2 linked regions of the Homo sapiens genome follow. The protein of the gene in region 2 interacts with the protein of the main gene of each other region in a pairwise test. Each region holds a gene or a part of one and is shown on either strand. Other genes may lie near its edges.

Region 1 (7,032 bases), on a different chromosome or scaffold from region 2:
TAGTCCCAGCTACTTGGGAGGCTGAAGCAGGAGAATCACTTGAACCCAGGAGGCGGAGGCTGCAATGAGCCAAGATCATGCCACTGCACTCCAGCCTGGCGACAGAGCAAGACTCCATCTCAAAAAAAAAAAAAAAAATCAAAAAATTAGCTGGGTATGGTGGTGTGTGCCTGTAGTCCCAGCTACTCAGGAGGCTGAGGCAGGAGAATCACTTGAACCTGTGAGGAGGAGGGTGCAGTGAGCTGAGATCATACCACTGCACTCCAGCCTGGGCAACAGAAAATGACCCTGTTTCAAATAAATAAATAAATAAAATTTCAGTAAATGAAAAGAAGTGTCATTGGGCTTCAATTGTATTTGGTTTACTTCTTTCTTAAAAATCTGAAACAAATGTGGCAAACAGAAATTGACAAATCTGCATGCTAGATTTTCGTGGGGTTTTTTTGTTTGTTTTTTGTTTTGAGACGGAGTCTCACTCGTCGCCCAGGCTGGAGTGTAATGGTGTGATCTCAGCTCACTGCAACCTCCGCCTCCTGGGTTCAGGCGGTTCTCCTGCCTCAGCCTCCCGAGTAGCTGGGAGTACAGGCGCCCACCACCACACCCAGCTAATTTTTGTATTTTTAGTAGAGATGGAGTTTCACCATGTTGGCCAGGCTGGTCTTGAACTCCTAACCTCAGGTGATCTGCCTGCCTTGGTCTCCCAAAGTGCTGGGATTACAGCTGTGAGCCACTGCACCCAGCCCTGCATGCTAGATTTAAAATGTATATATTTTCTGTACTTTTTATAATTTTAAAATATTTTAAATTAAATGTCTGTAATCAGTAAAGTTTTCAAAAATAAGTATATTTTATGTTTGTTCCTTCTGGGTCCTGGAAAATAATTTATTATGCCTCAAGCTATAGGTATATTTGCCTAGATATTTCCTTATCTCTGAGCTAAAAACATTAAGATGAGATTGATGGAGCCCATTAAAGCAAAGAAAAAAAACACACACTCATCACTGCTCTAAAATCTGCACAGGTTTTGAAAATAAATCTATTCATTAAGAAAAAGTTCAGAAAGTCTCTGTTTTTAAACCATACCTGGCCTTGCAATTCTGGTCTTACAGGATATGTACTTGGGTAAGGAGCCCTAGATCTCGCAGTAGAATTCCAATAGTTAGAATTGTAGCTAGGATATGGTGGCTGCTCCTAAGAAAAAAAGAAAAATAAATTCACTCTTAATAACATTCATACATCATTTTAAGATAGATTGATAGAGGCAGGTTATAAGGATTAAAAAAAAAAGCAATAGACAAAAAGCAATAAGCTGGGCACAGTGGCACACGCTTCTTGTCCCACTACTGCGGAGGCTGAGGTGGGTGGATCGCTTGAGCTCAGGTGATTGAGTCTAGTATGGTCAAGAGAGACCCCGTCTCTTAAAAACAAAAAATAAAAGAAAAAAGGGAATAGGACCCCAACTATAAAACTGCTAATTATTCAGTACATGGTAAATCAAATGCTCTATGACAAAACAATTATTACCTAGTAAAAAGCTGTTCTTATCTGTTTCGACAATGCCACCACACCAAATGCTATATAAAGGAATTCTACTACATCAAGATGATTAGCAAAATCAGAGACATTAGATCACCTCTATCCTTCTCCAATAACTAATCCTCAAGACTACTAATTTAATTAGTGCAACAAAATGGTTCTTTGCTACTGTTATATTTACCAATAACTTTGGAACACAAAGACATTACTACTAGAGTTTCGCTCAAGCACATACATCTTCAATCTCCAACTTCTTTGCCTTGACACACCCTAGTTTTTCATATTCTACTCTGTGCTATGGCTAAGCTTTCCGCTGGCAGCCTCAGTGTCAGGCATTGATGCAGAACATTTACCAATCCAAAGAGAAAATCTAGCTACGACAATAATTTCATCAGCCTTTCTCTCCAACTCAGAAAGTTAACGCATGATTTGCAATAAGCCAATAAACTTTGATAAAAGACTAAATATACTCAAAACTTCTCAGAGCACCTATTATCTGGTTTATTACATACATTTATTATCCTATGAGTTATTTTGCTTTCAACTGTATAGATTTAGGGTTTTTTTTTTTTTTTTTTTTTTGAGACAGAGTTTCGCTCTTGTTGCCCAGGCTGGAGTGCAATGGCACGATCTCGGCTCACTGCAACCTCCGCTTCCCAAGTTCAAGCAATTTTCCTGCCTCAGCCTCCTGAATAGCTGGGATTACAGGCACCTGCCACCACGCCCAGCTAATTTTTTGTACTTTTAGTAGAGACCGGGTTTCACTATTTTGGCCAGGCTGGTCTTGAACTCCTGACCTCAGGAGATCCACCCGGCTTGGCTTCCCAAAGTGCTGGAATTACAGGCGTGAGCCACACTGTGCCCGCCCAAGTATAGTTTTAAGCTTGAACAGGACCTTCGACATTTTTTCTAAAACTTTGAATATGATTTCACAAAGAAATTCATTGGCAGCTGAAATAACTGAGAGATTATCACTATTAGCTTAACTGCACTACTTATCCATTTCATAATACTTTGTTTTCAGTAATACTTTGAATTTTTTTCAGTAATCATAATTATCAACACTGTTGGTACTGTTTGTTATCTTGGTACTGTTATGCGGGTATTATAGTTGCAAATGAATACTTACATTGGTATTGTTGGGAATCAGTATTTTCACAATGGGAGATAGGAGACACAGATATAAGAATAATGAAACTTAAAACCTTATAATCCTTAATTTGAATTGTAAATATCAGTATGAATTCAAACTGTATTTTATCTTCTTTAAAAAACCACCAACTTGGCCAGGCACAGTGGCTCACGCCTGTAATCCCACCACTTTGGGAGGCCTGACGCGGGTGGATCACCTGAGGTCAGGAGTTCGAGACCAGCCTGGCCAACACGGTGAAACCCCGTCTCTACTAAAAATACAAAAATTAGCTGGGTGTGGTGGTGGGTGCCTGTAATCTCAGCTACTCAGGAAGCTGAGGCACGAGAATAGCTTGAACCCAGGAGACAGAAGTTGCAGTGAGCAGAGATCATGCCACTGCACTCCAGCCTGGGCCACAGAGCAGAGACTCCGTCTCAAAAAAAAAAAAAAAGACAACCCACCAACTTGGGCTGGGCGCAGTGGCTCAATCTGTAATCCCAGCACTTTGGGTAGCTGAGGCAAGAGGATTGCTTGGGGCCAGAGACCAGGAGTTCAAGACCAGCCTGGAAAATAATGAGACTCAGTCTTTACCCAAAAAAAAAAAAAAAAATGTCAGGTGGGCGTGATGATGGGTGCCTATAGTCCCAGCTACTCAGGAGGCTGAGAGGTGAGAGGCAGAGGCAAAGTCCAGAAATTCAAGGTTATGGTGAGCTATGATCTATGATTGTGCTACTGCACTCCAGCCTGGGCAACAGAGTAAGACCCCATCTTTAAAAAGAAAAAACCTACTGACTTGATAACCACACACAGAATATAATTCAAATAATTCTTGAACAGTTTTCTGAATGGACATCTTTAGTGGTACCTTTCTAAAAGCAAAAGAAATTTAAAAATATCTTAAACTCTTCATATAATGTTATTAGTAGTGATATTACTATCTTAATTTTTAAACTATATTGTGTGTATTGTAGAATAGAATAAATACATACAGTAGTGTTATTGGGAACCGATATTGTCACGAGGACAAGGAAAGATAAAATATGGAATGGGGCAAAATGAGGAAGAACTGGGGGATAGTGAATGTGGTGGTGTCATTACAAACTCACATAAGTAAAAAACATAATTTGGCTGGGTGCAGCGGCTCACACCTGTAATCCCAGCACTTTGGGAGGCCAAGGCAGGTGGATCACGAGGTCAGGAGATAGAGACCATCCTAGCTAACACGGTGAAACCCCATCTCTACTAAAAATACAAAAAATTAGCCAGGTGTGGTGGCGGGCGCCTGTAGTCCCAGCTACCTGGGAGGCGGAGCTTGCAGCAAGCCTAGATCACGCCACTGCACTCCAGCCTGGGCAACAGAGGGAGACTCCGTCTCAAAACAACAACAACAACAACAAAACGTAATTTAACCTTTTATGCAAAACAAACAAATATGGATAAAAGTGACAGTGTGCCAGTCCACACAAAGGATTTAGGAGTCGCTGCAAATTCTAGCAACCCTCTTGTGTTCCCATGCCCTCCACAAGACCTACATTATCTTATATGGGAGCTGTGTTTTCAACTGAAGTCCCAGGATGAGAAGACACACAGGTAGACCTGAACTGAACCTGGGGCCTAGAGAAGAACCACTAGAGTGGACTCACAGAACCTGAGCAAGAAATAAATGTTTATCATTATAAGCTACTAAAATTCTGGAATTGTTGTTTCAGTATAGGAAAAGTCAATTAATGCAATAACTAACAATCAAGTTGGTAACATAACCACAGAGAAAAAAGAATTACTTCAAATGACTTTTAGCTCACGTTATTTTGACTGTACGTCCTCAGTGGAATTTATTCTCTAAGGACAAGCTGAACTGCAAAGAAACCGAAACTGCATCCATTAGTTGTTACTCATAAAACTGGTATTCTTATTTTCAAGTTTTACTCACTACCATCCAATTCACCTATTTAAAGTATATAATTCAGGCCTGGCATGGTGGCTTACGTCTGTAATCCCAACACTTTGGGAGGCCGAGGTGGGTGGGTCACTTGAGGTCAGGAGTTCAAGACCGGCCGGGCCCACATGGTGAAACCTCGTCTCTAATAAAATACAAAAATGAGCTGGGTGTGGTGGCGGGCAGCTACTCAGGAGGCTGAGGCACGAGAATTGCTTGAACCCAGGAAGCAGAGGTGTAGTGAACTGAGATTGCACCACTGCACTCCAGCCTGGGCAACAGGGTGAGACTCCATCTCAAAAAAAAAAAAAAAATTAGCCGGGCATGGTGGCACACACCCGTAGTCCTAGCTACTTGGGAGGTTGAGGCAGGAAAATTGCTTGAACCTGGGAGGCGGAGGTTGCAGTGAGCCAAGATCGTGCCACTGCACTCCAGCCTGGGTGACAGAGCAAGGCTCCATCTCAAAGATAAACAAATAAATAAATAAAAAGTAAATAAAAAGCTGATATTAAAGTAGCCACTCCAGCTTTCTCATAGTTGCCTTTTGCATATTTTTATATATATATACATATATATGTATACATGTATATATGTATACATGTATATGTATACATGTATATATGTATACATGTATATATGTATATATATGTGTACATGTATATATATGTATACATGCATATATATATGTGTATACACGTATATATATGTATTTATATGTGCATATATGTAATTTTTAATTAATAAAAGTAGTACATATTTTTGGGATACATGTGATATTTTGATACATGTATATAAAGTGTAATGATCAAAACAGGGTAACTGGCATATCTGACACCTCAAACATTTATCTTTTCTTTATTGCATTATATTTCTTTTTCCATCCATTTACTTTCAAACTATTTGTATCTTTAAACCTTAAGTGTGCCACCTTTAGACACCATATAATTGGATCTTGTTTTTTTTTTAATCCAGTCTGTCTTCTGACTAGATTGCTTAATCCATGCACATTTAATATTATTGATATAGCTGGATTTACATGTTTTATTTTTACTTTTTGTTTTTTATATGTCTCATGTGTTTTTGTCCTTTATTCCACCTTTACTGCTTTCTTTTGCATTAAGTGAATATTTTCAAATGTAGCATTATAACTTAATGATTATACTTTTTTTTTCTTTAGCAGTTACTCTTGGGCTAACAATACACTTCTTCTTCTTCCTTTTTTTTTTTTTTTTTTTTTTGAGACGGAGTCTCACTCTATCACCCAGGCTGGAGTGCAGTGGCACGATCTCGGCTCACTGCAAGCTCCGCCTCCCGGGTTCATGCCATTCTCCTGCCTCAGCCTCCCAAGTAGCTGGGACTACAGGCGCCCGCCACCACGCCCGGCTAATTTTTTTTTTTTTTTTTTTTTGTATTTTTAGTACAGACAAGGTTTCACCATGTTAGCCAGAATGGTCTCGATCTCCTGACCTTGTGATCTGCCCACCTTGGCCTCCCAAATTGCTGGGATTACAGGCGTGAGCCACAGCACCCAGCTGGGCTAACAATATGCTTCTCATCAGAATCAGCTTCTGATTTATACCAACTTAATTCCAGTGAGATACAGGAATGCTATTCCTATATAAGTCTGTTCCTTTTCCCCTTTTTTGTGATTTTATTGTAATCCACATTATGTCTACAAATGTTACAAACTCAACATTATATTGTTATACTTATTACTTTATATAATGTCTTTTAAAGAATCTGAGAAGAAAAGAGCATATTTGCATCTTTTGTTATATTAACCTTGTTATTAATCATTTCTGATATGCTGGTGTGTTCAATGGTGTCTGACACTTCTCCAACACATCAGTCTTTTTTCTCTCCTTCATATTGCATAATCTGTATTGATCTATCTTCAAATTCATGAATTCTTTCTTCTGTCAGTTCTAGCCTATTGAACTCCTCTAGTTAATTTTTCATTTTAGTTACTGTACTTTTCAACTCCAGAATTTCTATTTGTTTCTTTTTTAATATATAATTGCTATCTCTTTATTGATATTCCCTATTTGACATGACATTATCACACACCTTTCTTTGCTTCTTTAATCATAGTTTTTTAGTTATTTGAACATATATAATGGCTACTTTGAAGTCTTTGTCTATTAAATGTGACATCTGGTCACTTTCACAATCAGTTTCTGTTACCTGCTTTTTTTCCAGTGTATGGGTCATACTTTCCTGTGTCTTTGCATAGCTCATAATTCTTTGTTGGAAACTAGACATTTTAGCAACTCTGAGTACTACTGGTCCCACCTTTTCCACCTTAGGCTTGTTATTGTCATTTGCTCATTTGTTTAGTAACCAGCTGGATTATTTTTGCAAAGTCTGTTTGCCCTCAAACTTCAAGTATGAAGTATGTGATATTGCTCATTAGAAGGCACAGCCTTGG
Region 2 (7,032 bases):
TTCACATACCTATTGGCCACATGTATGTCTTCTTTTGAAAAATGTCCACTCAGGCCCTTTGTCTATATTTTGATCAGAACATTTGTTTTCTTTTCTTACTGTTGAGTTGTTTGAGTTCCTTATCTACTTTGGACATGAATCTCTTATCGTATGTATGTTGTGCAGGTATCTTCCTCCACTCCATAGGTCATCTCTTCACTCTGCTGTTTCCTTTGCTATGCAACAGCCTTGGGTTGGATGTAATCCTGTGTGTCTCTTGCTTTTGTTGCCTGTCCTTAGGGTCACATCGAAAAAGCCATTGCCCAGAGCAACGTTAGGGAGCTTTTCCCCTGTTTCCTTCCAGGAGGTTTATAGAAAAAGTCATTGCCCAGAGCGACGTTGGGGAGCTTTCCCCCTGTTTCCTTCCAGGAGGTTTATAGAAAAAGTCATTGCCCAGAGCAACGTTGGGGAGCTTTCCCCCTGTTTCCTTCCAGGAGGTTTATAGAAAAAGTCATTGCCCAGAGCGACGTTGGGGAGCTTTTCCCCTGTTTCCTTCCAGGAGGTTTATAGAAAAAGTCATTGCCCAGAGCGACGTTGGGGAGCTTTTCCCCTGTTTCCTTCCAGGAGGTTTATAGAAAAAGTCATTGCCCAAAGCGACGTTGGGGAGCTTTTCCCCTGTTTCCTTCCAGGAGGTTTATAGAAAAAGCCATTGCCCAGAGCGACGTTGGGGAGCTTTTCCCCTGTTTCCTTCCGGGAGGTTTATAGAAAAAGTCATTGCCCAGAGCGACGTTGGGGAGCTTTTCCCCTGTCTCCTTCCGGGAGGTTTATGGAAAAAGTCATTGCCCAGAGCGACGTTGGGGAGCTTTTCCCCTGTCTCCTTCCAGGAGGTTTATAGAAAAAGTCATTGCCCAGAGCGACGTTAGGGAGCTTTTCCCCTGTCTTCTTCCAGGAGGTTTATAGAAAAAGCCATTGCGCAGAGCGACGTTAGGGAGCTTTTCCCCTGTCTTCTTCCAGGAGGTTTATAGAAAAAGCCATTGCCCAGAGCGACGTTAGGGAGCTTTTCCCCTGTTTCCTTCCAGGAGGTTTATAGAAAAAGCCATTGCCCAGAGCGACGTTAGGGAGCTTTTCCCCTGTCTTCTTCCAGGAGGTTTATAGAAGAAGCCATTGCCCAGAGCGACGTTAGGGAGCTTTTCCCCTGTCTTCTTCCAGTAGGTTTATAGAAAAAGTCATTACCCAGAGCAACGTTGGGGAGCTTTTCCCCTGTTTCCTTCCAGGAGGTTTATAGAAAAAGTCATTGCCCAGAGCAACGTTAGGGAGCTTTTCCCCTGTTTCCTTCCAGGAGGTTTATAGAAAAAGTCATTGCCCAGAGCGACGTTAGGGAGCTTTTCCCCTGTTTCCTTCCAGGAGGTTCATAGAAAAAGCCATTGCCCAGAGCGACGTTGGGGAGCTTTTCCCCTGTTTCCTTCCAGGAGGTTTATAGAAAAAGTCTGCCCAGAGCGACGTTGGGGAGCTTTTCCCCTGTTTCCTTCCAGGAGGTTTATAGTCTCAGGCCTTACGCTTAAGTCTCTCTAGAATTCTTAAATTTGTGAACATCCCAAGAAGTGGAAGTAGGAAAAATGTTGAGCTATCAGTATATATGATATGGGTAAAGTGAAGTCTGTCTAGTTTACAGGAGGTTAATAAAATAATTTGAAAACTTATTTTGGCTGAAATTTTGTGCATTCTCTTTTGAGAAATAACTTTCTGTGAATCTGCTTTAAAGTAGAAAAGATGTTAATTTGCATTTCATCTCTTTTTATCTCCGCCCTATTCAATTTCTAGTTGAGATGCAAGTGAACAGTAAAATAACCAAATTTTAGTAAGAACAAGAGGCAGGACCAGAAATGATCTACAGGCTGCATAGTTAAGCTTGGAGTATTCAGAAGTGGACTATTTGTGTTTTGTGGTTTAAGACAAGAATTATTGGCTCTTTTCTGGATATAGCTGTGAGTTATTTATGAAATTATAGAAATTTTTTTGTTGAATGATAGAATTCAAAAGAATATAAAAAGAAAAATCACCAATAATCCTATAAACTGAAGATAGAAACTTTTTATACTTTTATTGTATTTTGTTTCAAACATCTCTCTTGGCATAAATACATATGTTTATGTATGTATGTGTTTGTGTGTGATTAAAACTGGATTATATGACATACTTTTTGAGGTTTTATTGTATTTTAACCTCAGCATCCAACAGAGGAAGTTTTTGAAGTTTTAAAGAAATGCCTCAGGTTCTCTGTGAAGAATCCATTATATGCTTTTTCAAAAACTGTTTTTCCCCCCAGGATTTTAAAGATATTTAGGTCGGGAAAAGCATACAAAATTAAACAACTGGAAAATGAGCTACAAACTACTGAGGTGGATGATTAATTCTGAGCACTCTGATAAGAGGGAGCAATTGTTACATAAAAGCAAGGTTTTGTAGGTAGGCAGTTGTAGTGACACAGAAAACAGCTTCTGGAGATAACATTTTAACTAGGAAAAGCTATCAGGCTTATTCATATCAACAGACAAAGCATCCTGTTAGCCCATATGGATATGGGCATAGGGAAGCTGGGAAAAATCTGCCTTTCTTTGCCGGAAATTCAGTGTTTCTGAACATAGAAAAAGAAGAAATACAGAAAGCGTCATTCAAAGAAAGGAAGCATTCACGTTCTTTTAAATAGCAAGGCTTTTCATGCCAAAATTGTGTAAGGGATTAAATGTTAGCCTGTATTCTTGTCTTGTCTTGGTTATCCATGACTTGGGAAAGCCATGCCAGTTGGTCCATGCCGCCATACCCTCATTCACCTAAGAAGAATTGGAAGTAACACTTTATGACTTATAAGGTGATTTTGCATCCCACGTAATACTTGTGCTAAATATACAAATTATTGATAGAATGCCTGGAGGAAGAGAATCTTTTGTATGGTTAACCTCACATACAGTGCATACAGTGGTAATAGATGCCACACCCCCAGATCGTTGGATTAGAGAATACACATTGATAACTGTAAAACACATTGGGAATGCTGGGTTCCTGAGGGACAAGATTGTGTTTATATTTCATTTCATGTCAGGTGTGGAATATTTTGGGGCCTGAGGCCTTGGCTGTACAGTGGAAACAAATGATGCTTCAGAGAGTCTGTAGTACAGAAAGCAGCATTTTATATTGTTTTATTTAGTGTTTTAGCAAACTAGACACCAGTATCATTGCCATGCTCTTTTTGTTATGAATCCTACTGTGTTAGCAATTGCATGGTTGGTTAGATTAATGTATAATAATGAGTCAGTGTTGGAAATGATGAGATTTGTCTCTTGTCTCTTTCTCTACAAAATTCTAATTTGTAGTAAGTAGCTCAGAACGCTCAGATTTGAATTACTCTGTTTATGCAAGAAGTCATTTATTAAATAAAGATGATGTTAGTAATTTTTAAATCAGTGGTTTGAGTCAGCTTTTTGGTTTGTAGACCAAAAAAGATTTAGTTACTTTGATGAAATGTACTCAACTACTCTCCAATTTTAAGTCAACTGCTTAAATTGTCCAGACATGTTATTTAAGGAATGGTTTCTATATTTGTTTATCATTGAAAGACATTAGACTATATATATTTAAACGTATAGTCAATATATTAAGCACAGAACCTTTCAATTATACAGGTGTCTTAAGAACCCCTGGTCCTGGAGGCTGGTGTTGTTAGTAATATTTAGAGCACTGAATTGTCCAACTAAGAAAAATTAAATTTTAACTTGATTTATACTCAAACATAGCTCTTAGAGAAATTTAAGGGATTTTCCTTTGTGCATGAAAATCTATCAAAAACACAGCCGTCTACCAATTAGATAAGAAGTAAAAAGGTAGTCTTTTAAAAAGACTAAAGCTTTTCTAAGCCAAAAATGAGGGGATTTTCTTTTCTATTTCAGTGTAAAACCTGTTCTGAGCCAAAAAAGATAACCAGTTCCTCTGCCATCTATGACAATCCAAATCTCATCAAACCAATTCCAGTGAAACCCAGTGAAAACCAGCAACAGCGTATACCTCAGCCCAACCAGGTACGGAGTTCTCTGCTTGTCATATTCAGTGTGTCTCTAGAATTCTTAAAGAACTTTGACCCAGAATATAGTCAGGGGAGGGCCTGGTGTTGTTGAAGAATGCTTTCAGGTAAACCCAAGAAAGCGGGATTTCAGAATACAGATTTTTTCATTATTAATAACTTACTCTTCCTAGAAGAGGGTTAAAGTTTTTACTTTTGGCATATACCACATTCTGTGCTAATCTCTTGTGAACTTGAACTCCTTAAAAGATAATGTATTTTTTAAAAAACAACAAGCCAGCACAGTGGCTCAAGCCTGTAATCCCAGCACTTTGAGAGGCTGAGGCGAGAGGATCATTTGAGGCCAGAAGTTTGAGAGCAGCCTGGGCAACACAGTGAGACTCCATCTCTACAGGAAAATTAGCCAGGCATGATGGCGTGCACCTGTAGTGCTAGCTGCTCTGGAGGCTGAGGCGGGAGGATCCCTTGAGCTTAGGAGTTTGAGGTTACGGTGAGCTATGGAATGCGCCACTGCACTCCAGCCTGGGCAAGAAAGCAAGACCATGTCTCAGAAAACAAAAACAAACAAACAAGCACCCTAGAAAACTAATAACATTGTCAGAGATGACAGAAACATTACCCATTGGGTCCATATTCTTCTGGGGTGGGTGGCTTCCCAAGGCCACCTGGGAGAACCACCAAGGACACAGAGTTGATTTGAGCACTTCTGAGCACCTCCTCTGTGCCAGATGCAGAGCTAGCACTGTAGACTGGGGTAGCTGCCGCCGAGAGCTCAGAGTCCAAAGGAATGGTATAAAACTCCTCTTCAGATATGATGACTTGTCACTGTCTTTGCAATCTAAATTAGAAATATTACAGCAGCTTTTGTGTTAGTGTATATATATATATATATACACTTCAGAATAGTACAGCAATGACAAAAATTGTCAATCTGTAGGTCCCATTAATGATTGTAAATATAATATTGCTGTGTCATTTTATCATGACTATGACTAATTAAAAAGATTTTCTTAAAGGAATTAGTTTATATCAATTTTGAAAATGAACATGGAGCCAAAAGACATAAAGACTAGTAATGAAAATCTTATATTGAATTTTTAAAGAAAAGAAGTCTTCTAATTTTTTAGCTTTCTTTTTATTGCTTGTTTTATGGAAAGTTTTTATTATATTTTAATAGCGAGACCTGAATATGTTGACTTTAAAATGAAGCTTGTGGTTTTTTTTCTTTCCTCTTTTATTTTTTTTTTTGAGACAGATTTCATTCCTGTTACCCGGGCTGGAGTGCAGTGGCACCATCTCAGCTCACTGCAACTTGTGTCTCCTGGGCTCAAGCAATCCTCCCACCTCAGCCTCCCAAGTAGCTGGGACTACAGGCGTGTGCTGCCACATCTGGCAATTTCTGTATTTTTTGTAGAGATGGGGTTTTGCCATGTTGCCCAGGCTGGTCTTGAACTCCTTAGCTCAAGCAGTCTGCCTGCCTTGGCCTCCCAAAGTGCAGGAATTACAGGCATGAGCCACTGTGCCTAGCCTCATGTTTTCTCAGTGCAACAATGCAGAAAGCAACAGAAGTAAAGAGCAAGAAGGAAGTAGCTTTGTAACTGGCTGGGCCAAGGTAGATTTTATGTATCCAAGGACTTTTTAAATCCTACCAGTATATATTTGAAAGGATCAAGTTAGATTTAAAGTCTTCCGTTTCTTTCCAGCCCTTGATTTCCATAATTCTGTGAAAAACTACTAGAAATTCTGAAATGCTTATATTCCTTTGTATTCTCATATTACTCTGCAGGCTTAGATGGGCTTCCTATTGAACAGATTGTTTATTTTTTTAGTGCATATAATTTCCTACCAAGGTGGTTCCCAATCTGTGAAACCCCAGGCCCTTGAAGATCTTATACCTGTTTTATCGGTCAACAGATATTAAAATATAATAACTGTTTTGGGGGTGCAAGGGGAGCATGCTGTGAAAATTTTTGACATTAAAAAGGGGATCTCATTTTTCAAGTTTATTATTATTATTTTTCATTCTCTCTAATCAATCCTTTGTAAATAGAATAAGTCATCAGATAAGTTATGTTTCATAGCACTTCCTCATATAACCAAATTGTTTGTAGACTCATGTCAGATATCTTTATTTTTTCCAGACCTTAGACCCTGAACCCCAACACTTATCCTTGACAGCTCTGTTTGGGAAGCAGGACAAAGCTACATGTCAGGAAACTGTGGAGCCTCCGCAGACTCTCCACCAGCAGCAGCAGCAGCAGCAGCAGCAGCAAGAGAAGCTTCCAATTAGGCAGGGGGTTGTACGCTCCCTGTCCTATGAGGAACCCAGAAGACACTCACCCCCCATTGAGAAGCAGCTCTGTCCAGCCATTCAGAAACTCATGGTCAGGAGCGCAGACCTCCACCCATTGTCAGAGCTGCCTGAAAACCGGCCTTGTGAAAATGGCAGTACCCATTCTGCGGGAGAATTTTTTACAGGACCTGTCCAGCCAGGGTCTCCTCACAACATTGGAACTTCTCGTGGTGTACAAAATGCTTCCAGAACTCAGAACCTGTTCGAGAAACTTCAGAGTACCCCAGGGGCAGCAAACAAGTGTGACCCTAGTACACCAGCACCTGCCAGCTCAGCTGCCCTGAACCGCAGCAGAGCTCCCACTTCTGTCACCCCTGTGGCTCCAGGAAAGGGTCTGGCTCAGCCACCACAGGCCTATTTCAATGGCTCCCTTCCACCTCAGACAGTAGGACATCAGGCTCATGGAAGAGAACAGTCCACACTCCCAAGACAAACACTCCCCATCTCTGGTAGTCAGACTGGCAGCTCTGGAGTGATCTCCCCTCAAGAGTTACTGAAGAAGCTTCAGATTGTACAGCAGGAGCAGCAGCTGCATGCCTCTAACCGGCCAGCCTTGGCCGCTAAGTTTCCTGTGCTCGCTCAGAGCTCTGGAACAGGGAAACCCTTGGAATCCTGGATCAACAAG

Evidence for each region. The genes of interacting proteins can lie anywhere in the genome.
Region 1: the proteins of DCP1B (region 2) and BAG4 interact in binary tests that used the Homo sapiens proteins (3 or more experiments, as listed by UniProt).

Annotation. Positions count from the first base shown.
Region 1 is NC_000008.11:38,186,847-38,193,878, reverse strand, and holds part of BAG4 (BAG family molecular chaperone regulator 4), read right to left. Parts: intron 1,192-7,032; coding exon 1,084-1,191; intron 1-1,083. UniProt on the Homo sapiens protein: Inhibits the chaperone activity of HSP70/HSC70 by promoting substrate release. Prevents constitutive TNFRSF1A signaling. Negative regulator of PRKN translocation to damaged mitochondria.
Region 2 is NC_000012.12:1,952,452-1,959,483, reverse strand, and holds part of DCP1B (mRNA-decapping enzyme 1B), read left to right. Parts: intron 1-3,923; coding exon 3,924-4,052; intron 4,053-6,195; coding exon 6,196-7,032. UniProt on the Homo sapiens protein: May play a role in the degradation of mRNAs, both in normal mRNA turnover and in nonsense-mediated mRNA decay. May remove the 7-methyl guanine cap structure from mRNA molecules, yielding a 5'-phosphorylated mRNA fragment and 7m-GDP.